Linked DNA regions of Homo sapiens. The protein of the gene in region 1 interacts with the protein of each later gene in a pairwise test. Each region holds a gene or a part of one and is shown in the gene's direction. Other genes may lie near its edges.

Region 1 (7,432 bases):
CTAAAAATACAAAAATTAGCCAGGCATGGTGGTTTGCGCCTGTAGTCCCAGCTACTTCGGAGGTTGAGGCAGGAGAATCACTTGAACCTGGGAGGCGGAAGTTGTGGTGAGTCAAGATCTCACCACTGCACTCCAGCCTGGGCAACAGAGTAGCTGTGGACAAAGAAGACAGACGGGGCAGCTGTCCCTCTCCTGCAAGAGGAGGAGGAACTGGCAGAGGAGCTGGGGAAGAGCTGGCCACTGACCTCATGTTAGTGGGAGGGAAGGCATCGGTGATTTTGGCAGGTGCAGGCTCACAGGGTGGTGGGGGTGACAGCCTGCCTGGAGTGGGTTCAAGAAAGAAAGGCAAGGGGGAAATTGACCTTGCCCAGTGAAAACTCTTTCAGAAGGCTTTGCTGCAAAGGGAACACAGAAATGGGGCAGTGTTGAAGAAGGGGAAGTGAGTCAAGAAAGAAGGAACAGTAGTGCTGATGGAAATGATGCCAGAGAGATGAGACATTGCTGATGCAGGAGAGAGTGGGAGGACGGCCGGAGCCACATCGCTGAGCAGGCAATCAGCAAATGAATGAATGTGTGTGAAGCGGTGATAAGAGAAGCAGAGCAAATGGTGGTGCCTATTAGGGACTTAGGGGATCTGGGCAGGGAGGGCTTCTTTGGCAGGTGTCATTTTAGCAGAAACCTAGAGGTCCTGAAGGAGTAAGCCATGTGGATTCTGGGGAGAGAGCATTTCAGGAAGAAGAAACAGTCGGTGCAAAGGGCCTTAGGGCAGACTGGCTGGCGTACCGAAGGGAGAGTGTGGTTGGATCGGAGTGAGAAGGGATCATGGTGGCACTTGTGAGCAAACACCTGTGAAACATGCAGGACCTAGTGGGCCAGTAAGGACTTTGCCTTTTACTCAGCGAGACCCAGGACCCATCACAGGCGTGATGGACTCTGTTTTTTTTTTTTTGTTTTTTTTTTTTAGTTAAGGTCTTGCTCTGTTACCCAGGCTGGAGTGCAGTGGTGCAATCAGGGCTCATTCTGCCTCCTGGGCTCAAGTGGTCCTCCTACCTTAACTTCTCTAGTAGCTGAGATCACAGGCATACTCCACCACACCTGGCTAATTTTAGTATTATTTTTTGTAGAGAAGGGGTTTGCCATGTTGCTCAGGCTGGCCTCGAACTCCTGGCCTCAAGCCATCCGCCTGCCTCAGCCTCCTAAAGTGCTGGGATTACAGGTGTGAGCCACTGCGTCCAGCTGGGCTCTATTCTTCACAGAATCACACTGGTTGCTGAGTAGAGAATGGTATCAGGACAAAAGCAAAAACCGGGAGGTTGGGTGTGGTGGCTCACGCCCATAATCCCAGCACTTTGGGAGGCTGAGGCAGGTGGATGGCTTGAGGCCAGGAGTTCGAGGCCAGCCTGGGAAATATAGTGAGCTCCCATGTCAATAAAAAATAAATAAATAAGCAAAAGCCGGAGATTAAGCGTTACTGAAATGATCCAGAAGAGAGAGGGTGTTGGTTTGGAGAAGTGCTGGATTCTGCATGTATTTCAAAGGTGGAGCTGGTAGGGTTTGCTAAGGCATTAGGGGCAGAATGTGAGTCAAACGAAAGAGTCAAGGATCATGCCAGGGCGTTGACCTGAGCAACAGGAATCTCAGACATGCCCCTGACTGGGATGAGGCAGGCCAGTAGTCTGACCTTCAGCATGTCAAGTTGAAATGCTTATTTATCCAAGTGGGGATGTCAGATGGGCCACTGGATATTTAAGTATGGGAGAGGTCAGGCTGAGATACGTAAACCTGGGGACGGGTGGAAAACAGCAGGTGCTGGCCTGGCGCAGTGGCTCATGCCTGTAATCCCAATGCTTTGGGAGGCCGAGGCAGGCCAGGAGTTCAAGACCAGCCTGGACAACATGGCAAAACCCCATCTCTACCAAAAAATATAAAAATTAGCCGGGCATAGTGGCGCGTACCTGTAGTCCCAGCTACTCGGGTGGCTGAGGTGGGAGGATCACTTGAGCCTGGGAGGTTGAGGCTGCAGTGAGCTGTAATGGCACTACTGCACTCCAGCCGGGGTGACAGAGTGAGACTCTGTCTCAGAAAGCAAGCAGCAGGTGGCTTTTAAGGCCATCAGACTGGATGAGCTCACTTAGGGAGGGAGTGTGGTAAAGGAAAGAGGTCTGTATGCACCTCATGAGAATATCAACCTGAGAAACCCAGACCTGCCCTCTGCCAAGGAAGAAAGTGGCCCAGAGTTCTGGACTGTCCAGGAAATCACCTGGGGTTGAGGTCTGGAAGGGGCTCCGTTTCTGAAAGTGAAGCTGCCTACATGTGCCTTCCACTGGGCCCCAGGTGTGGGAGAAGGATGGCAGCCCCCTAGAAAGAAAAGAGTTTGCATATTTTGGGTGGCAAAAGAGCTTCACCCGGAGCAGCACTATTTAGGATATTTACATTGGATGTGCTCATTGTGAGGTGCCACTGGGATGGAGTCTGAGAGCAGAAGAGGAGCCACAGGGCCACAGTCTGAGAAAAATCCTGCCTCTATGGCATCTTCCAGGATAGTCTGCTTCCCTGGGGCCACATCATTGATTAATTAATAACAGCAACACGGCCCGGTGCAGTGGCTCACACCTGTAATCCCAGCACTTTGGGAGGCCAAGGTGGGTGGATCACTTGAGGTCAGGAGTTCAAGACCAGCCTGGCCAACATGGTGAAACCCTCTCTCTACTAAAAATACAAAAAATTAGCCGGGCATGGTGGCACATGCCTGTAATCCTAGTTACCCGGGAGGCTGAGGTGGGAGAATCGCTTGAACCCAGGAGGCAGAGGTTGCAGTGAGCCGAGATCACATCACTGCACTCCAGCCTGGGCAACAGAGCAAGACTCCATCACAAAAAGAAAAAAAAAAGATAATAAGAATAACAGCAATGCTAACATAGCAGTTCCCATGAGCCATGAGGATGTTCTGTTTGTATCTGCATAGTGATTTAATCCTTACCACTACCCTGGGAGTAGATCCGATTATAACCATCCCCTCCCCATTGCCTATGAGAAAACAGGCACCGAGAGGGTACGGGACAAGTGGAGGAGCTGGGATTTGCACCCAAGCGCTTCCTCTATGCTCTTAGCCATGATGCTCTGCTGCCTCAAAAGAACGGCCAGCTAGTGTTAGTAATAATAACATTTACCGATGTCATCGTTTGGGGTTTCATGTAGTCCTTGCAACAAACCTATGAGCTGGGCCCGTGATTCCAGTTTTGCAGAGTGGGGAGTTGGTCACAGAGCTAGTGAGACCAGGCCTCCAGCCCAGTTGGTCCGTCTCCAGGGCCTCAGCTCAGCACCACATCCCTGTACTGCAAGCCTCAGTGGTCAGCACCAGGCGTCCCATGGGGACTTAAGATTCCAAGGCTTTTGAGCACTGCTAGAAGTTTGGGGTAAGATCTTTTACTTTTTTTATATTAAAAAAATATATTTTTTTGAGATGGAGTCTCACTCTTTCGCCCAGGCTGGAGTACACTGGTGTGGCCTCGGCTCACTGCAACCTCCACCTCCCGGGTTCAAGAGAACCCGGAGAGGGAGAGCCTCAGCCTCCCGAGTAGCTGGGATTACAGGTGCCCACCACCATGCCCGGCTAATTTTTGTATTTTTAGTAGAGATAGAGTTTCAATCCAGGTGGGAGATGGGGTTTCACCATGTTGGCCAGGCTGGTCTCCAACTCCTGACCTCAGGCAATCCGCCCACCTCGGCCTCCCAAAGTGCTGGAATTACAGCCACTGCCCGGCCTGGGGTAAGCTTTCAATGTTGTAACTCCCTCCAGAACCTCATGGCCTATGAAGATGGCCAGGTGGGCCTGGGCCCAGGCTCTGAATGGCCTGCTGCCTCTCTCCTGGACACAGCATTCAACTTCCTGGCTGGGGCTGGGAGTGCAAAGATTTGTTTATTTGTTTCTTTTTTATTGAGACAGAGTCTCACTCTGTCGCCCTGGCTGGAGTGCAGTGGTGCAATCTGGGGTCGATGCAGCCTCTGCCTCCCGGGTTCAAGTGATTCTCGTGCCTCAGCCTGAGTAGCTGGGATTACAGGCATGCGCCACCAGGCCTGGCTAATCTTTTTTGCATTTTTGGTAGAGATGGGGTTTTGCCATTTTGGCCAGGCTGGTCTTGAACTCTTGACCTCCAGTGATCCACCTGCCTCAGCCCCCCAAAGTGCTGGGATTACAGGTGTGAGCCACCACTCCCAGCCTGGGAGTGCAAGGATTTAAATAAAATCTTGTGAAAGTTCAGTTTGGCTCCTTCAGGGACTCGGCCAGGCCGGGGGGCAGCACAGGAGACAGGCTGACTCCCCTGTACAGATGGATGGGGAAACACAGGCAGAGTAGGGACAGGGGACTTACACCAGGTCACACGGGGAGCCTGTGGATGAGGCAGAGGCAGGACTTGGGCCTGGGTCTCTGCGCTAAATGACTCCTGGGCATCCTGCTGAACTCTCTCCCAGAAGGAGATTGGCCTCACATACCCCACTGACCCCTTCCTAGCATGCTTTTTGCCAGACCCATTGAGACTGGCTGAGGACTGGTTGCCATAGAGATGGCCTGTTAGGCAGTTCTACGGTGCGGATGGGGGATGGGGCAGGATGGGGCAGGACACCGATATGCTAAATACCTACCAACAGTTGGTTAGGACCCCGTCGGTGCGACCAGGGCAGGACGTGCGGCTCCAGGCTCCAGGAACCAGAACGGGGCTGCTCAAGCTGCTGTCGACCGTCTCTCAGGACAAGCAGGTGAGGGAGGCCCAGTGAGGACACTTCCAGCTGCCTAGAGCCAGGTGGGTCAGGGAGGCCTGGGCTGGGGAGGCCCTTGAGAAGCCACAAGACCTGAGCTGAGGTCCAGATGAAACTCAGGGAGGCAGGAGTGGGACAGGGACCACAGGGAGGCCTAAGGGCCTTGGGAGAAGCCGAGGGATGACGCCCAGGAGTGACTCCCAGGGATGATGGGGCCATTCAGGGAACACTGCGGAAGGAGCAGGTTTCAGGAAAGATGAAGACCACCTTGATGAAGACCACCTTGGTTTCTGCCTTGGCTGTAGCAGGTCCAGGGCCCAGTGGGACATTTGGGAGTGCAGTCCAGGGCCCAGAGGTGGCCTAGCGCAATGGTGACAAATCTGGGCTCCACCACTTCCCAGCTGTGTGACCTCAGTTACTCAGCCTCTCTGAGCCTCAGCTTTCTCCTCCACATGATGGAGGTGATAGTGAGTACCGGCCTCCTAGGGTCCTTGGGAAGGTTACGTGTGTTTATGCATGAAAGTCCTGAGCACACAATAGGTGCTCAGCAGGTGGCAGCTGTTGCTATTTTAATATGCAGAACGGAGGTGGTGCTCGGTCGGGTTTTTTTGTTTGTTTGTTTTTTTGAGATGGAGTTTCACTCTTGTTGCCCAGGCTGGAGTGCAATGACACAATCTCGGCTCACTGCAGCCTCCAACTCCTAGGTTCAAGCGATTGTCCTGCCTCAGCCTCCCAAGTAGCTAGGATTACAGGCGCAGGCCACCACACTCGGCTAATTTTTTTTGTATTTTTAGTACAGATGGGGTTTCGCCATGTTGGCCAGGCTGGTCTCGAACTCCTGGCCTCAGGTGATCCGCCCCCCTTGGCCTCCCAAAGTGCTGGGGTTACAGGTGTGAGCACCACATCCAGCCCTGTTTGGTTGGTTTTTATGGTAACGAGGGCCCAGAGGGACCCAGCCAGGCCCAGCCAGGTGCACAGAGGGAGCACCCGGGTGAGGTGCAACACAGTCCAGGAGGCTGCTCAAGCTGGCTGCTCCTCCCCTACTGTCTCTGCCCAGGGCTGCCTGGGGAGTGGTGATGGTGTGCCAAATCAAGACCTGCAGCAGAGGTCTCAGAGCTCAAGGCAGACAGCAAAGAAGGACCGCAAGCCCAGGGGCCAGAGCAAGAAAGGACAGGGCTCTGAAGAGTCTGAAGAGTAAGCAGCAGTGGGATGGGTCAGGAGGCTGTTGGGGGTCAGGGCCCTCTGGGGGCTGGCGCCGACCCTGACCCCCACCCTTTCCTTCTTCAGTCACTTCCCGCTTCTTCCTCGGAAACCCTCCTTCCCCTTCCAGTGGGCCTGGGAGAGCATCGCCACAGATGTCCGGGCTGTGCTTCAGCCAAGCTCCCCAACCCCTGGCCACCAAGCCCTGCCCATGCCCTCCTCGTTCTCCCAGCGTCAGTCCAGGCGCAAGTCCACGGCCAACCTCCCAGAGGCCCATGGCTGCTGCTGGAAGACAGAGGCGCAAAACCTGAAGGCGAGACAGCAGCTGGGAGCCTGGGGCGGTGTCTCCATCCCTACTGGCAAAGGGGAGCTAGGATCAGAGCCCCCCAGTGGTCTCCAGCTGCCTGGGAGGAGGCCAGGATCAGGATCGGCGTCCGACAAGCAGGTCCAGCTGCAAAGCCTGGGTGCTGAGGAGGCCGAGAGGGGTCTGAGTTCTGGGGTGCTGCCCCAGCGCCCCAGGAGGGGGTCGATCTCAGAGGAGGAGCAATTTTCAGAGGCCACAGAGGAGGCTGAGGAGGGAGAGCACAGGACTCCCTGCAGAAGGAGGGCTGGTTGTCAGAGAAAGGGGCAGATTTCTGGAGAGGAAGCCTCCGATGAGGGAGAAGTGCAGGGCCAGAGCCAGGGGAGCAGCCCCAGCTTCAACAACCTCCGAAGGCGACAATGGAGGAAGACAAGGGCCAAGGAGCTGCAGGGGCCATGGGACCTGGAGAAGCTGCACAGGCAGCTACAGAGAGACCTGGACTGTGGTGAGCGTGGGGCTCAGAGCCTGGATTCCCCCGAAGCTACACCGCAGGGAACAGGGAGCAGTCAGGGAGGCAGGGGCTCAGGCAGGCTGGGCTGTGCTCTGGGTGCTGGGGGGCGTTGCCTGGTGGGCTGAGAGGGAGAGGGCAGCCCCTGACTTGGTCCCACTGTGGGCAGGCCCCCAAAAGCTGCCCTGGAAGACTTTGAGGGCTGCCTTCCAGGCCTCCAAGCGGAATGGAAAGGCCTATGCCTCGGGATACGATGAAACTTTCGTGTCTGCCAACCTCCCTAATCGCACCTTCCACAAACGACAGGAAGCCACCAGGTAAGAGGGAAGAGAAGGGAGTGGGAGCCCAGAATGAGAAGTAGAGATGGAGCCACTTCTCCAAGAGATGCTTAGGCATTTGAACTCTCATTCATTTCTTTATTTATCCATTCACCAAACTTTTGGATCATCCATCCATCCATCCATCCATCCATCCATCCATCCATCCACCCATCCATCCATCTATCCAACTACTGATAACATCCACTCAACCATTCATCCATCTCTCTCAATACCTGGCCAATTATCTATTGATACAACCACTTTTATTTCCCATCTTTTGTTCCATCCATCCATTAAATTATTAACTAAGTGATTAATGCAACGTTTATTATCTACTCATGGGCC
Region 2 (7,657 bases), on another chromosome or scaffold:
AAATAAATTGTGGTAGCCATTCTTCAAGATGGGCCCCAGGGATCCCCACTTCATGGTATTCATCTCCTTGTGTAGTCCTCTCACATTTTACCACGGTTGGTCTATGTGACCAATAGCATATGGCAGAAGTAGTGATATGTAACTTCTGAGATTAGGTTATAAAAAAGACTGCGGTTTCTGTTTTAGTTGCTCACATGCTGTCTTTGGGCTGTGTACTCTGTGGGAAGCTGCCATGTTATGAGGACACTAAGGCAGCCTGGGGAAAGGCCCACTTGAGGAGGAATGAACTGAGGCTTGCCAATAGCCGCATGAGTGAGTTTGAATGTGAATCCTTTAGCCCCACCTGAACCTTGAGATGACAGTAGCCCAGACCAAAAGGTTGACTGAAACCCCATGAAAGATCTTGTCCAGACCATCCAGCTAAGCCCTACTGTATTCCTGACCCACAGAAACATTGTGATGATAAATGTTTATTTTAAGCTGCTATGTTTTAGGGTAATTTTTATGTACCAATAGATAACTAATACACAGACATTAGCAATAACTAATACACAGTAAATAATTGCAAATTGTAATAAATGCATATACCAATCTGATGGTAAAGCAGATGTCTGTCACAAGAAGTGGTATGGTCAAGTGGTTAATGACATAGGCTTTGGAGCCTGAATGCCTAGGTTCAGATCCTGGCTTTGCCATATACTAGTGTGTGACCGTGGCAAATCATTTCAAAATTTTTTTGGCTTCTATTTCCTAACTTGCTCATTTGTAAAACAGATAATAACAGTACTTATATTAAGGTTGTTGCGAAGATTCAACAAGTTAGAAAATGAAAGTGCTTAGCTCGGAGCCTAGCACATTTTAAGTGCCCAATTAACATAACTATTGTTATTCTGTATGGATTATTGAGCATTTGTCATTAATATATTTGCCTCAGCTGTTTGCATATTGTCCTTCACATTGGAAAATGACTACTGAAGGTGAATGCTCTGAATAAATTTGACTCAAATTTAACAATGTAGTTCTGAAAGAAGAGAAAGACCCTCTCATATTATTTTATATTGTTTTATACTCAGTACCTGTTTTAAGAAAAAACAACAAGGAAGTAAAACCAAAGACAGGCAGCCCGGCGCCTGGCCCGAAACCAGGCCTGGGCCTGCCTGGCCTAAACCCAGTAGTTAAAAATCAACTCATAACTTAGAAACCGATGTTATTCATAGATTCCAGACATTGTATAGAAGAACATTGTGAAACTCCCTGCCCTGTTCTGTTTCTCTCTGACCACCAGTACATGCAGTCCCTGTCACATACCCCCTGCTTGCTCAAATCAATCACAACCCTTTCATGTGAAATCTTTAGTGTTGTGAGCCCTTAAAAGGGACAGACATTGTGCACTCAGGGAGCTCGGATTTTAAGGCAGTAGCTTGCTGATGCTCCCAGCTGAATAAAGCCCTTCCTTATACAACTCAGCGTCTGAGAGGTTTTGTCTGTGGTTAGTCCTGCTACAGTTCAAAGCTGTGTTTAGCACCTACTGTGCACCAAGGAAATATGCTAGCTGCAGGATGAAGTTTAGTAAGACATGGTTCATGTTCCCAGGGGTTCAAATTCTTGTGGAAAAGGCAGAAACAAATGTATTCATGTAATAAAGGAATCTAAGTCTAAAAAACTTATGAGTTGAAGAATCTTTGAGAATTCATCATGATTACCATTACATATGATATACTCATGTTTTTCTAGGGAGAAATATGACAGTTCTATACCCAGAAGAAAATTTGAGAATCAGTTTAGAAGTTGAGAAATTAGGCCGGGTGCAGTGGCTCACGCCTGTAATCCCAGCACTTTGGGAGGCCGAAGCAGGTGGATCACAAGGTCAAGAGATTGATACCATCCTGGCTAACACAGTGAAACCCCTAAAAATACCAAAAAAAAAAAAAAATTAGCCAGGCGTGGTGGCAGGCGCCTGTAGTCACAGCTACTCGGGAGGCTGAGGCAGGAGAATGGCGTGAACTGGGGGGTGGAGCTTGCAGTGAGCCACGATCACGCCACTGCACTATAGCCTGGGCAAGAGCGAGACTCCCGTCTCAAAAAAAAAAAAAAGAAGTTGAGAAATAAAAGATGTGTTTTAACTGCTAATGAAAGTTATAATTTATGCTAGGAAGCCAAAGTACAGAGGAAAGCAGAAAGCCGAAATGAAGACATGCTTGGCTTTCAACTTAAGTGTCACTTCATCAGAGAGGCTTCCTCCATAGCCCCTCTTCTCTTCTTTGATATCACTTATTATATTAATAATATATACTTAATTGCATTTGTTTCATATTTTCTCCGCAGTTAGACTATAAGATCCACGAAGGCAGGAATCACAACTGGGCTTACTTACTATTGTAAACTCCCCCACTTATAAATCTGACTCAGCATCTAGTTCAATCCCTGGTACAAAACAGGTGCTTAACAAAAAAATTTTTTTTTTTTTGAGACGGAGTTTTGCTCTTGTTGCCCAGGCTAGAGTGCAATGGTGAGATCTCGGCTCACCGCAACCTCCGCCTCCCGGGTTCAAGCGATTCTCCTGCCTCAGCCTCCTAAGTAGCTGGGATTACAGGCATGTGCCACCACACCCGGCCAATTTTGTATTTTTAGTAGAGATGGGGTTTCCCCATGTTGGCTAGGCTGTTGTCGAACTCCTGACCTCAGGTGATCCACCTACCTTGGCCTCCCAAAGTGCTGGGATTACAGGCGTGAGCCACTGTGCCCGGCCAACACATTTTTATAAATGAATGAATGTTAAATGAATGTTTAGAATTATTAGAATTCTATTGGGTAGATGAGGCCCATAGAAAACTCTTGAGACCAATGTAGCAGGATTCTCAGTGAAAGACTAAGTTTGTGTGCAGGGATGTTTTCCTTCTCTAGCAAAGAGAGGTGCTGGAAAGGCTTTCATGGTCCATAAGAAGGGAATTGTTTTGGAGGGCAGTGCTATAGCAACTCTTCCCCTCCATTCACCACATAAAAAATTCAGTTAGAAAATAGAGAGGAATCAGCCTTCTTGTGCTTTGAAGACTGTGAAAGATACTGGTGATCATCCATCTAGCATCCATTTTCCTCTTCTCCTTTACAGGTCTCCAGTTTTATTCAAATAGCCATGTCTCCACCTTGCAACTCATGTGACTCAAAGAGCACTGACACCATTGCCAATTCCAATTGTCATAGCTCCTTTTCACTTCTGGAACCCAGGCTTAAGCTGTCTGTACATTTCCCAGGCAGTTACTGGTAAAGAGGAAGAGTGTGTGCCTGTGTGAACTTATTGGCTCAAAAAACCAGAAGGAAAGGTTTTAGATGAAAAAGAAAGTATGTGGTCCTGATTTCTCCAAGTAGACATCTGGAAAATCACGTTAGTATGAATTTGAAGTCTACCCTTTTTTTTTTTTACAACAAAGCAGAGACTAATAGCAACTGGGTCCTTGTTAACTTGCTTAGCCACTGAATTAATCAAAGTCTCCCTTGCCTCTGAGCTTTCTGTTATGCGAGATAAGCAACTTCTTTATTTTTTAGGAAGACAGTTTAACTCAGATTCTATATCACGTGCATCCAAAATAATAATAACTGACTCAAAGATGTTTGGCCTCTACAATTAGGGCAGCCATTCTCAGAAGAGTATGCAAGGGCACCCTATTATCTTGGAAAAGGGAAGCACTGAGACTATTTGCATTTTGAGAACTGAAAATGCAATCTGCTAACCGTCGTTAGAGTGAATATCCAGGTATGGAAAGCACAGTGGGTAGGCGTAGGTTGGGGTAGGGACATGTTTGCATGGGGCAAACACAGAGATCAAACCTAAGTGTAGTCCCAGCTGCCTGGAAGAAGGCTAAGAAGGGTCTGAAAGTATTGAGCTCCAAGAGCCCTTGGATCTCCTGATGAGAGACCCTTGGCTGATGCCCTAGATGGGACATCCCTGTTGGCTACTGTGGGACCTGCATCATTTGACTGCAACACAGTCTGTTGCAACATTTGACTGTAACACAGACCTACATCATTTGACTGATTTGAAAAGACAAGTTGTCAACAGCGACACCATGTGGCTATAAGATACAATGACAATGGTGGACAGCTACAGCCTCAGGTAGGGCCTGACGCTTCGTCGAGATGTGGAAAATGCTGAATGGGAAGATGAACTGTCGTCAACAAATATTTATTGGGGTCCTCCAAATGTCAGCTGCTACAGTGGTCATTCAGGTCTGGAACATCGAGAACATGCTGACCCGTACCCCAGCAAGGGCTCGTAGTCGCGGCGGGGTAGGGGGCGAGAGAGAGGGCAGTCTCTGGTGGCCAGGTAACCCAGGCTTCACTTTCACCCACGGCCACAAGTATTTCTGACGTCTTCCGGGCAAATAAGCCTCCATGTAAGTGACAGGGCACCCAAGGAGTGCGTTGGAAGCGCCAGCGTGCCCGAGACCAGCACATCGCACCGACGCCTTCGTTTGCGGTAAGCCCCGCCCCCCGTAGTGAGCCAACCGGAGGGAGCGGGGCGGACCCAGCTTCCCGGAGAGGCTGGAGAGAATCGTTTGGGGGCATTCGCAGGCCAAAGAGGGGCTGGCCCTCGACGCGCTCGGGCTCGATTGGCCGCCCTCCCCCGGCGGTGGTAACGGTCGCGGAGGCGGGGCCTGACGTAGCTGATCCCAGCCTAACCTGGCCCGGCTGGCTGCTGGTGGGAGGCCGGCGACTGAGTAAGGTGAGTGGCTCTCGGGGCTCTCAGAGGCGTCGGCGTGAGCCCCTTCCCGGAGTACCCCGGACTTGACCTCACCTGGGCCTAAAAGTGGTCAGACTGACCCTTGTCGGGGAGGAGCCATCTGGGACAGGGTCGCGCCAATTAAAAATCCCTGCGTAAGGGTTTGGGGATCGGACAAAACTGCCTCCAGTCCCAGCTCCCCAGGCTTTGTGTTCTTTGGCTTCTCCTTTAATGTCTCAGCGCCTCCGATTCTTTATTTGTATACTAAAGCTGGTAATTCTTGCCTTACAAGGTGGTTGTGAGGGTTAAATGAGGCAGTAAGAGTAAAGCTTAGAATCACGTCGGGCACAGACTCGATTTAAGCTGTAGGTAATTACTCCATCCCCCAAAATCGACCCGGGCTGAAGCGCTAGTTTTGTGTCAAACAACCGCGAAGGTTGTTTGGGGAGTGAGGACTCGGAGCAGAAGGGGGCGGTTAGGCGAATAGCACAGGTGAGTATCTCTTTCTCCAGTTTATTAACCTCATTCCGGATTCAGGAGACCTCTGACTTTATACAGGGCCTAATAGGAGTTTTTCAAGGTGAAAAATGCCAGAAGGCTAAGTCACCTGTAACAGAGAGACCAATCAGAGTTTCCTTTTTTACTGCCACTTTGTTTTTCAATCAATGATATTAAACAGGCAGGGCGCAGTGGCTTACGCCTGTAATCTCAGCACTTTGGGAGGCCGAGGTGGGCGGATCCCCTGAGGTCAGGAGTTCGAGACCACCCTGGCCAACATGATGAAACCACGTCTCTACTAAAAATACAAAAATTAGCTGGGCATGGTGGTGTGCGCCTGTAATCCCAGCTACTCGGGCGGGTGAGGCAGCAGAATCGCTTGAACTCGGGAGGCGGAGGTTGCTGTGAGCCGAGATCGCGCCACTGCACTCCAGCCTGGGTGACGGAGCGAGACTCTGTCTCAAAAATATATGTATAATATATTAAACTCTGTGCAGGCATTACCCATATTGGTTTCAAGCCTCTGCATGAGTTTTGTACTTTAAATATTGCCAAGTAGACTCTGGCCTCCCCTGCCCCGCCTTTTGGGGAAGAGGTGGCTGACTTGGAGTTTTCCCTACAGCTTTTGCTTCAAAGCAAGGTTCTGCCCCTTCATGTCACCTCTCCTGAGACAGAATGATTTGGTTGAGATGACATTCCATTTTAACTCTTTCCTATTTGGGGTAAGTTCAGCTCTTTCTTAGGAACATTAAACAGCAAGTTGCAATATTTTTAGAATAGAGCTTTTGCATTTAATAAGGAATAGAGACTTCGAAAGGGTTACATGTTCATTTATTGCAGTAATTTGAAGTATATACTTTTGAAGATGCTTACAGATTTTGGTGTGATTCAGTTGAGAAGGAACAGTTATTGGCCATGGTTTATTGTCAGCTCCCCTCCCCCACCCCAAATGGTGAAAAAAATAATTAAATTTTAAGATATGGAGCATGTTACAAGGGGCTTCAGACCTATAAAGGGCAATTTGGCTGAAAGACTCGGGAAACCTAGAAAGTGCCAGAAGATGCAATTATGTTTTTGCTTTTCTATGCTTGGCTTACTATGCCATGTACAAATCAACTCCTACCCTCCGACTCCTACCCCCCGACTCCTACCCCCAACAATCTTATTTTAAGTGTGTTATGACAGTAATTAAAGCTGTAGCTTCTGTTTTGGCCCTAGAAAGCATTTGGTCTCTTCCTGTGACTTTAAAGTTCCAGACCTTTGTCCTGTCACAGCCTGTAGTGGGGAAAAGGCTGCTGCAAACTATTGGCCCGTTTATTTCACAGAATGGTCCTCTGAAAAGGAGGGCTTGGTCACAGGTGCAAATGAGGAGTAGTTTTGTTCCTGTGTTTGCTTTTGTGATCAGTGGTAGTTTGTCTGAGGATGCTTCATTTTAGTATCCTTGCAAATGAGAATATCCTACCTGTGGAGCCAGAAGTCAGAATTGATGATAGATGATGATAGATTTGGATACCCAGCTAAATGTCTTAACAAGGTAGGGAGAGGAAAGATAAGAAGGAGAGAGAAGAGAAGGGAAGAGGCATATGATGGTGAGCTGGGAAGGCCATTAGCAGTTATTTCAGTTGTGCCTGCTTTATCTGTGATTACCAGTACCTTGGATGCCTGCTCTGGGAGTAACACAAGACCATTCTTACTAGGAGGTTGAACATTTCAAGATTTTGTTCTTTTTATCTTTTTGAAACCTAGATGAAGATCCAGTTTCAGACATGAGACTCGTTGGGTGATCATTTCATTGAGATCAACCTGAATGACCAGGTGTAAAGTGCAAGAGTAATATGCTATGACTGAGGTATGTCTAATGTAACGGATGACTCCAGATGTTGGGAGGCCATGGAAAAAAATCTAATATTTATTGAGTACTATACTAGGTTCATTACATATATTTCCTTTTGACTTCCTGATAATCCTATCAGGTAGATATTTTACAACTCAGCAAAGAAGCTGAAGCTCAGAGAGGTTAAATACCTACTTAAGATAACACAGAAAGCTGATCACCAACTCTAATCACAGTCTCCATCCTGCTGTGTGCCAGACAATGCTTTATGTTCTTTCTATATTAACTCTTCTAATCTTTAACTCGTGAGCTGAGTACTTTTATTATCCTTATTTTATGATGAGGAAATTGAAGCACACAGAGATTAGTACTGTACTCTCCTGGCTGTGTGGCAGAATCCATGATTTGAACCCAGGCAGTCTGGCTACAGAGCTCTGCAGGTTGAGTATCCCTTACCTGCAATGCTTGGAACTATGTTTTGGACTTTTAGATTAAAAAAAAAATTGGAATATTTGTATATACATGAGGTATCTTGTTTAGAGTTGGGTAACTCTAAACACAAAATTCATTTATTGTTTCATATACAGCTTATACACACAGCCTGAAGC
Region 3 (7,081 bases), on another chromosome or scaffold:
TGCCGGGCGCGGTAGCTCACACCTGTAATCCCAGCACTTTGGGAGGCCGAGGTGGGCAGATCACGAGGTCAGGACATTGAGACCATCCTGGCTAACACGGTGAAACTCTGTCTCTACTAAAAATACAAAAAAATTAGCCAGGTGAAGTGGCGGGTGCCTGTAGTCCCAGCTACTTGGAAGGCTGAGGCAGGAGAATGGCGTGAACCCAGGAGGCGGAGCTTGCAGTGAGCTGAGATTGCGCCACTGCACTCCAGCCTGGGCGACAGAGCGACACTCTTGTCTCAAAAACAAAACAAAACAAAAATCACAACAAAACAAAATCTGTGTTTTTTAAACAAGGAAGTTTTCAGGATCTAAACTTACACTTAACTTTCAAAGCATTCTCACCCTTTTATATCTCACTTTGGCATCATAGAAACGATTCTGGCGGAAAAGGTAGTTGCCAAACTCCCGTTCCGTAGCTGCCACTTTCAGGACCTTCTGAAGTGGAAATTGGTCTTGCTGCTCCTGAGGACCAGAGACAGGAATATTCAGCAAGGAAACCAAAAGCAGTAATGCCACAATGGAAGTGTTAGTACACGTGAGCCCAGGAGTTCGAGACCAGCCTGGGCAACATAGTGAGAACATGTCTCCATTTAAAAAAATAGTAATTGAAAGAAAGGAAGTGTTACTACAGCTGTGAGCTCTTCTTTTTCAGATCATGCACTTCTGTTTACAGCCTTCTGTGTTGGAGTCACCTCTGAATCTGACAGAAGCCACACCAGTGTTATAACCTGTCCCATTTTACACCCTAGAGCCAGAAGGAAGTCTACGTCTTCAGTCTTCCCCTGATGTTCTCTGAGGAAGCAGTGTCCCATGGAATCAAAAACTGACGGAACTTGCCAAGCACAGAAGTCAGTGCTCAAAACCACTATTTGGCCACCAAGCACTGAACAGGTCTTGGTTTGCTCAGGGCCCTGGCAGTCTTTATGGTCATGATGCTCTGCCCTGGCCATCTTCAGAGTCACCCATAGAGCCTCTCTGGTCCCGGCCCCACCCCCCAGATCCTAAATGAGTTCACCACAGGTGGGACGAGGCATTTGCAAGAAACTCGAATCTCAGAATGATGAAAAAGGGTGAGCTCCCTCACTTGGAGTGCTGACAGTTTAGCTGGGGAGACTCCATGTGAAGATATAAACCCTGGCATGGACCTCTAAGGCCACAGATGGAGTCAGTGTGAGACAGCATGATAAAGACAGTGCCTGTGACTGCTGACGGGGTCAGAAGCCCTGCATCTACGGGACAGGGTTAAGTGAAAGGCTACAAAGAGGAGGCAAGACTTAAGTGGTGAGGACAGTGGCCATACATCCCAGTTTGCCTGGGACTGTCTCAGTTTAAACCCGATGTCATGGGTAACCCCTCCAGTGAACAGCCCCTTTTACTCTCACCTGTGCTGGGCTGGACAATCAATTATTCAGTCACCCTAGTTATGAGCTACCAATGCCTGCCTTGCTGGAAACCAAACGATGAAAAGCAAGTGTTCACTGTCTCACAGGGAGAACTAGGCAAAGGATGACTGAAAAATCAGTTCAAACCACTAATCCTTAAACTCACAGCCTTACCTTGCCCAGCACATTTATCTACACATGAGAGCCATTACTAAGACAAACACAGACTAGGAAGCAGAGGAACTCCGCCGCCACCGCACAGGAGCCGCGGGGGTACCCTGGAGAGGACGATCAGCCTCAGGGCAGGCCATCTAGAAGAATTACCAATAACACCAACCCATTCGTCTCTCTATAAAGTGCTGACATCTGTGCTCTGGAACTTACAGCTGAGAGAGCACAAAACTTGTCTGACTCAGCACAGTCCAGGAAGTCAAGCAGCTCAATCTCAAACAGGACAGTGGTGTTTGGGGGGATCAAGGGAGGGCAGCCCAGCGTTCCATAGGCGTAGTTCGGTTTGAACAGAAACCTGGCCAGCTCTCCTCTCCGCATGCTCAGAAGGCCCAGCTCCATGCCCCACAGTGTAATATCTGTAAGAATGGACAAAGAAGGTGGGTGAAGCTTGCTCAGTATCCTGCTCAGTGCTATCAGTTTCTTCCCCCTCTAAGTCAGCAGTACTCTGGCCTCCATGTCTCCCTCACACAGTTCCCTCTTCCTGCAATGTCTTCCTCCTGAGCCTGTGCCCAGCTTCTACTGATATAAATTTTATTCAAACTTCCAGGCTCAGTTCAAATGCCCCCACTTCCAGGAAGCCTTCCCTGAACCTCCCAGCTAGAATTAATCATGCCTTCATTAAGCACACCCACAACACTGCTTTCACCTCCCAGGCACTCATCCGATTCTACCAAGTGAGCTGAGTGCAGGTCAGTCTCCTCCACTACATTGTGAGGTCCTTAAGGGTGGAGATGTTCTAATCTTCTGAGTACATCCTCTCTTTTCACCATGTATTGTGGGAAGTAAGTATTCGATTGAGTTTTACTTAATAAATGAACAAAGAAACATTCCCAGTGGTTAGTTAAGTCAGAGTGCAAAGATTATACCTTGCCCGTTAAGCCATCTCCCAAATGCCTAGGTCTCAAGGGGAGAGAACATGGCTGTGTTACCAAAACCCAGCCTCAGCAAAGCCAACTCAAAGAACCTGCGCTCTGAGCAGTCTTCCCAGCCTGAGGCATCGTGCCTCATCTAGCCCCTAAACAATTCCTTCTTCTCCAGCTCCCACTCTGAACCTACCCTCTCCAAGTTTCATTAGCCGAGGAGTTTTCCTAAAGTAATTAGAATCGAAGGGTCTGTCCATGTGTTCCAGGTATCCCGAGTATTTCACTAGGATAGAAGAAAGAATGTAAGGAAAATGGACCAAAAACACCCACGCCACCATAATATCGAGTCTCTCATGATCACACAGAAACAATGTGAACAGATGAGCTTAAGCTGCCCGACACCCCGAGGTACAGGAATAAATCTTCTCTCTGCATTTTGGGTGCCGGCCCTTTGGCTCAGAGGTTCAAGAGCTTTGCGGAAGCATCACACAAAGGGGACATAGGAGTCCCTAGCTTTCGTCTTAAAAAAACTAATTCAGGCCGGAAGCAGCGGCTCATGCTTGTAATCCCAGCTACTGGGGAGGCTGAGGTGGGAGGCTCACTTGGGTCCAGGAGTCTGAGACCAGCCTGGGCAACATAGAGTCCCCCATATCTACAAAAATATTAAAAATTAGCCGGGCATGGTGGATCGCGCCTGTAAATCCCTTATTTGGGAGGCTGAGGCAGGAGAATCACGAGCCCAGGAGGTGGAGGCTGCAGTGAGCTATGATCGCACCACTGCACTCCAGCCTGGGCAACTGAGCAAGACCCCGTTTCAAAAACAAAAAACAAAAATCCACTTCAAACAAAGCATTTCCAACCCCATTAAGTGCTTTTTGAAAATGAGGCCTCTCTCTTCCCAACAGAGTGCGATGACATGGATCCTGAGGACAAACCGCCCCAGGGCGTACCTAGCACCGAAGCATCAGGCGCCACTAGGTCTCCAGCTCCTTCTCGGATGACGTCCTTCAGCACGCCCCGGTCCCCCGAGATGTCCAGCATCCTCTGACTTAACCGCTCGTACAGGGACTGATGGAGAATGAAAGCCAGGCCTCAGAGCCGCAGACCCACCCGGCCACCCCTCAGCGTCTACGCCCCCGAAACGTCTGGGCCCTCACCTGGCCGGGGGCGTCGTCCCCTTCCAGGACTCCCTGGTTTAACGCGCTTCCCCCCATGTCCTAGCTGCCCTCCCTGTGGCGTGAGCCTTCGGCCTGGTGCGCCCCGCTGCCCTCCCTGGCTGTGACTCTGGTGGGGTTCCGAAGGCCCCTTTATGCCCGGCAGACCCCTACCGACGGCGGCATTCCATTCTGGGGCCACGAGGAGGCACTCATCGTTTCGTTCCAACCGCCGCCAACGGCCCTGGCCCTCGCGAGCTCTGGAACTACAGAGGCCACGCGGTGAGGTGCGAGGTATGATCCGTAATGGGAGCGCACGAAACATGATGGGACACGTAACGGGACCACGCAGGGCACGTTGGGTACGTGCAGGGGCGCGAGGTGGCGGCACGTAATGGGAGCGCGCAGAGCATGATGGGGCACGCGCGGTAGCGCGAGGCGGGGCATGTAACCATAGCGTGCGGGTCATGATGAGGCACGGACGTGGGGGGTTAGGTGGGGCACGTAATTGGAGCTCGCGGGGCAGGATGGGGCATCTAACTGGAGCGACAGAGAGCACGATGGGGCACTTACAGGGGCCGGAGGCTGGGTACGTAACGAGAGCGAGCGGGAAATGATGGGGCACCTAACGAGCACGCAGAGCATGATGGGGCACGGGTGCGAGGTGGGGCGCACAGTGGGAGCGCGTGGGGCATGATGAGACACATGGCGAGGCCATCAGGGCACAGGGGAAGCACTTTTGGAACACGTGAGTGACAGGGCTGCCGCCCTTGAAGGAGCCCTCGGAGTGGCTGCGTGGTGGGGCACGTGGGGCAGGTTCAGGAAAAAGGATGCAGCATGTGATTGCAGGGCAACCTGGTGAGGACACGAGAGCCACCTGCCACCAGCAGGGTTCAGGGCTCCCAGCTGTGGGTTACTTCCACCTTCTTTCACTTTCTCTCTTCCATTGTGTTCTAGAGAATTTAGGCCCAGACAAGACACTGATTGATTGATTGATTGATTGATTGACAGAGGCTCGTTCTGAGCCCAGGCTGGAGTTCAGTGATGGATCTCAGCTCACTGCAGCCGCCACTCCCTGGGCTCAAGAGATCCTCTTGCCTCAGCCTCCCGAGTAGCTGGGATTACAGAACTGCACCACCAGGCCCAGCTAATTTATTTTTTAGTTTTTAATTTGCTGGAAAGATGGTTTGTAGCTTTGTTGCTAGGCTGGTCTTGAACTCCTGGCTTCAAGTGATCCTCCAGTCTTGGCCTCCCAAAGTGCTGGGATTATAGGCGTAAGCTACAGCCAACTTTCAATACTGCCCCATTGGGGGTTAAGTTTCCAACACATGAAATTAGGAGGATACATTCAAACCACAGCAGTATATTATGACCATAATATTCATTAACTGTATAACAGGACAGGCGCGGTGGCTCACACCTGTAATCCCAGCACTTTGGGAGGCCAAAGCCGGTGGATCGCTCCAGGTCAGGAGTTTGAGACCAGCCTGCCCCACATGATGAAACCCCATCTCTACTAAAATTACAAAGAATTAGCCGGGCATGGTGGCAGGCGCCTGTAACCCCAGCTACTTGGGAGGCTGAGGCAGGAGAATCACTTGAACCCGGGAGGCGGAGGTTGCAATGAGCCAGATTGCGCCACTGCACTCCAGCCTGGGTAACAAGAGCAAAACTCTGTCTCAGAAAACAAACAAAACCTGTATAACAGAGTGTCATTGAATTTCTAAACGTTGAAAGACTTCACATTAAAAAAAAAACTCACAATTCAATATTATTGAGTGAAAGTAACCAGACACAAAAGAGTACATTCTATATGATGCTGTTTATGTGAAATTCAAAAACAGTCCACATGACAACATGGTAATAAGGACAGTGGCTGTCCTTGTTAGGAGTTATGACTGGGAGGAGGCAGGAGGGAGCTTTCTGGAATCACTCTACATCTTGTTCTTGAGAGTGGGTGTATATACATCAAGTGTTTATCAAGCTGTGTGGTTAAGATTTGCACACTTGTATATGTTATACCTTGATTTAAAAAATCTAAGTAAATAAGGATACCTTTGAATATCTTAAAAAAAAAAAAAAAAGAGGCCAGGCTTGGTGGCTCACACCTATAATCCCAGCACTTTGGGAGGCTGAGGTAGGAGGATTGCTTGAGGCCGGGAGTTCAAAACCAGCCCAGGCAACAAAGCGAGACCCCTGTCTCTACTAAAATAAATAAAACAATAAAATGAAAAAAAATAGAGAGATTGAATCATCATCTGCCAGTTTGTATTAGAAAAAAAGAGAGAGAGAGGGAAGGCTGGGTGCAGTAAGGCTCACGCCTGTAATCCCAGCACTTTGGGAGGCCAAGGTGGGAGGATTGCTTGAGCCCAGAAGTTGAAGACCAGCCTGGGCAACAAAGCAAGACCCGGTATCTAAAAAAATTTTTTAAATATTAGCTTGGCATGGTGGCATGCACCTGTAGTCCCAGCTACTCAGGCAGCTGAGGTAGGAGGATGGCTTGAGCCTAGGAGTTGGAGGCTACAGTGAGCTATGACCACGCCACTGCACTCCAGCCTGGGCAACAGAGCAACAAGCTGTCTTTCCCCACCCCCCAGCCCCCCCGCCCAAAAAAAGGAGAGTAAGAGCAAGAGTTTGAGATTCAGAAAGAACTGTTTCCCAGCACCTATCTGCTCCTGTTGGGGTCATGAGGTGTGGACGGTGTACCCAGTCCCTCTGTTTCTGCCCCTCCTCCACAGTGGCCAAGGCCAGCACCTGAATGTTATCAGAGCAGGCCCAACAAAGGCTGCCTCCCCAGTCCCGTGATGTAACCCAGTTTCCACCTGATTCTGGTGACCTTGGGGACACAGGGGTGTTGCTGGGAAAGGGGAGGAGAGAAGGGGCAGAGACCAGGCAGTGGTGCAGGCGTCCAGCTGCATTTCCCACTTCTGACTCTGTGCCTGCTGTTCCCTGCTGGGAAGAAGGAAAGCCAGTGATGCTGGCTTGAGGCTGTAGTGGGAGGCCCAGCGGATTGTGAGAAGCCAGGTATTCCAATGTCGGGCTCCCCCGGGGGCTGCTGGTGCTGCTTCTGTCTCATTGACAAGCTTTCATAGGGGAGCAGGTGGGAGATCAGGGTAGAGGCCTTGTAGGTTCCAGGCTCTCTAGAATTACCTGGGAGTGTCACCTATAAGTGTAGAGTTCTGGGTCTCACTGGAGACCCCCTGAAGAAGATCCTTTGAAGGTGGGCCTCTAGAATCTCTATTACACCTATGCTTTCAACAGTTTCCCGAAAGTTTGGGAACTGATCTAGAAGGTGGGGAGCTTGCCTAGGTTTTGCTGTTCAGTTCTAGGTCCGGATGCATGCTGGGGCTGGACCTTGCATTATTAGTGTCACTGCAAATGACCCTGCAGATGGCCCCTTTCATGC

What was found.
Region 2: the proteins of TSGA10IP (region 1) and CEP70 interact in binary tests that used the Homo sapiens proteins (3 or more experiments, as listed by UniProt).
Region 3: the proteins of TSGA10IP (region 1) and TRIM50 interact in binary tests that used the Homo sapiens proteins (3 or more experiments, as listed by UniProt).

What each region holds. Positions count from the first base shown.
Region 1 is NC_000011.10:65,941,065-65,948,496, forward strand, and holds the start of TSGA10IP (testis-specific protein 10-interacting protein), read left to right. Parts: upstream 1-4,415; 5' UTR 4,416-4,611; coding exon 4,612-4,758; exon of another isoform or gene 4,759-4,802; intron 4,803-5,815; coding exon 5,816-5,952; intron 5,953-6,045; coding exon 6,046-6,764; intron 6,765-6,936; coding exon 6,937-7,084; intron 7,085-7,432.
Region 2 is NC_000003.12:138,591,261-138,598,917, reverse strand, and holds the start of CEP70 (centrosomal protein of 70 kDa), read left to right. Parts: upstream 1-4,657; 5' UTR 4,658-4,720; exon of another isoform or gene 4,721-5,209; intron 5,210-6,961; 5' UTR 6,962-7,055; coding exon of another isoform or gene 7,056-7,064; intron 7,065-7,657.
Region 3 is NC_000007.14:73,325,083-73,332,163, reverse strand, and holds the start of TRIM50 (E3 ubiquitin-protein ligase TRIM50), read left to right. Parts: upstream 1-4,081; 5' UTR 4,082-4,264; intron 4,265-6,588; exon of another isoform or gene 6,589-6,699; intron 6,700-7,081. Other genes in the region: inactive peptidyl-prolyl cis-trans isomerase FKBP6, read right to left, coding at 388-507, 1,812-2,014, 2,715-2,804, 3,472-3,589, 3,679-3,735. UniProt on the Homo sapiens protein: E3 ubiquitin-protein ligase that ubiquitinates Beclin-1/BECN1 in a 'Lys-63'-dependent manner enhancing its binding to ULK1. In turn, promotes starvation-induced autophagy activation.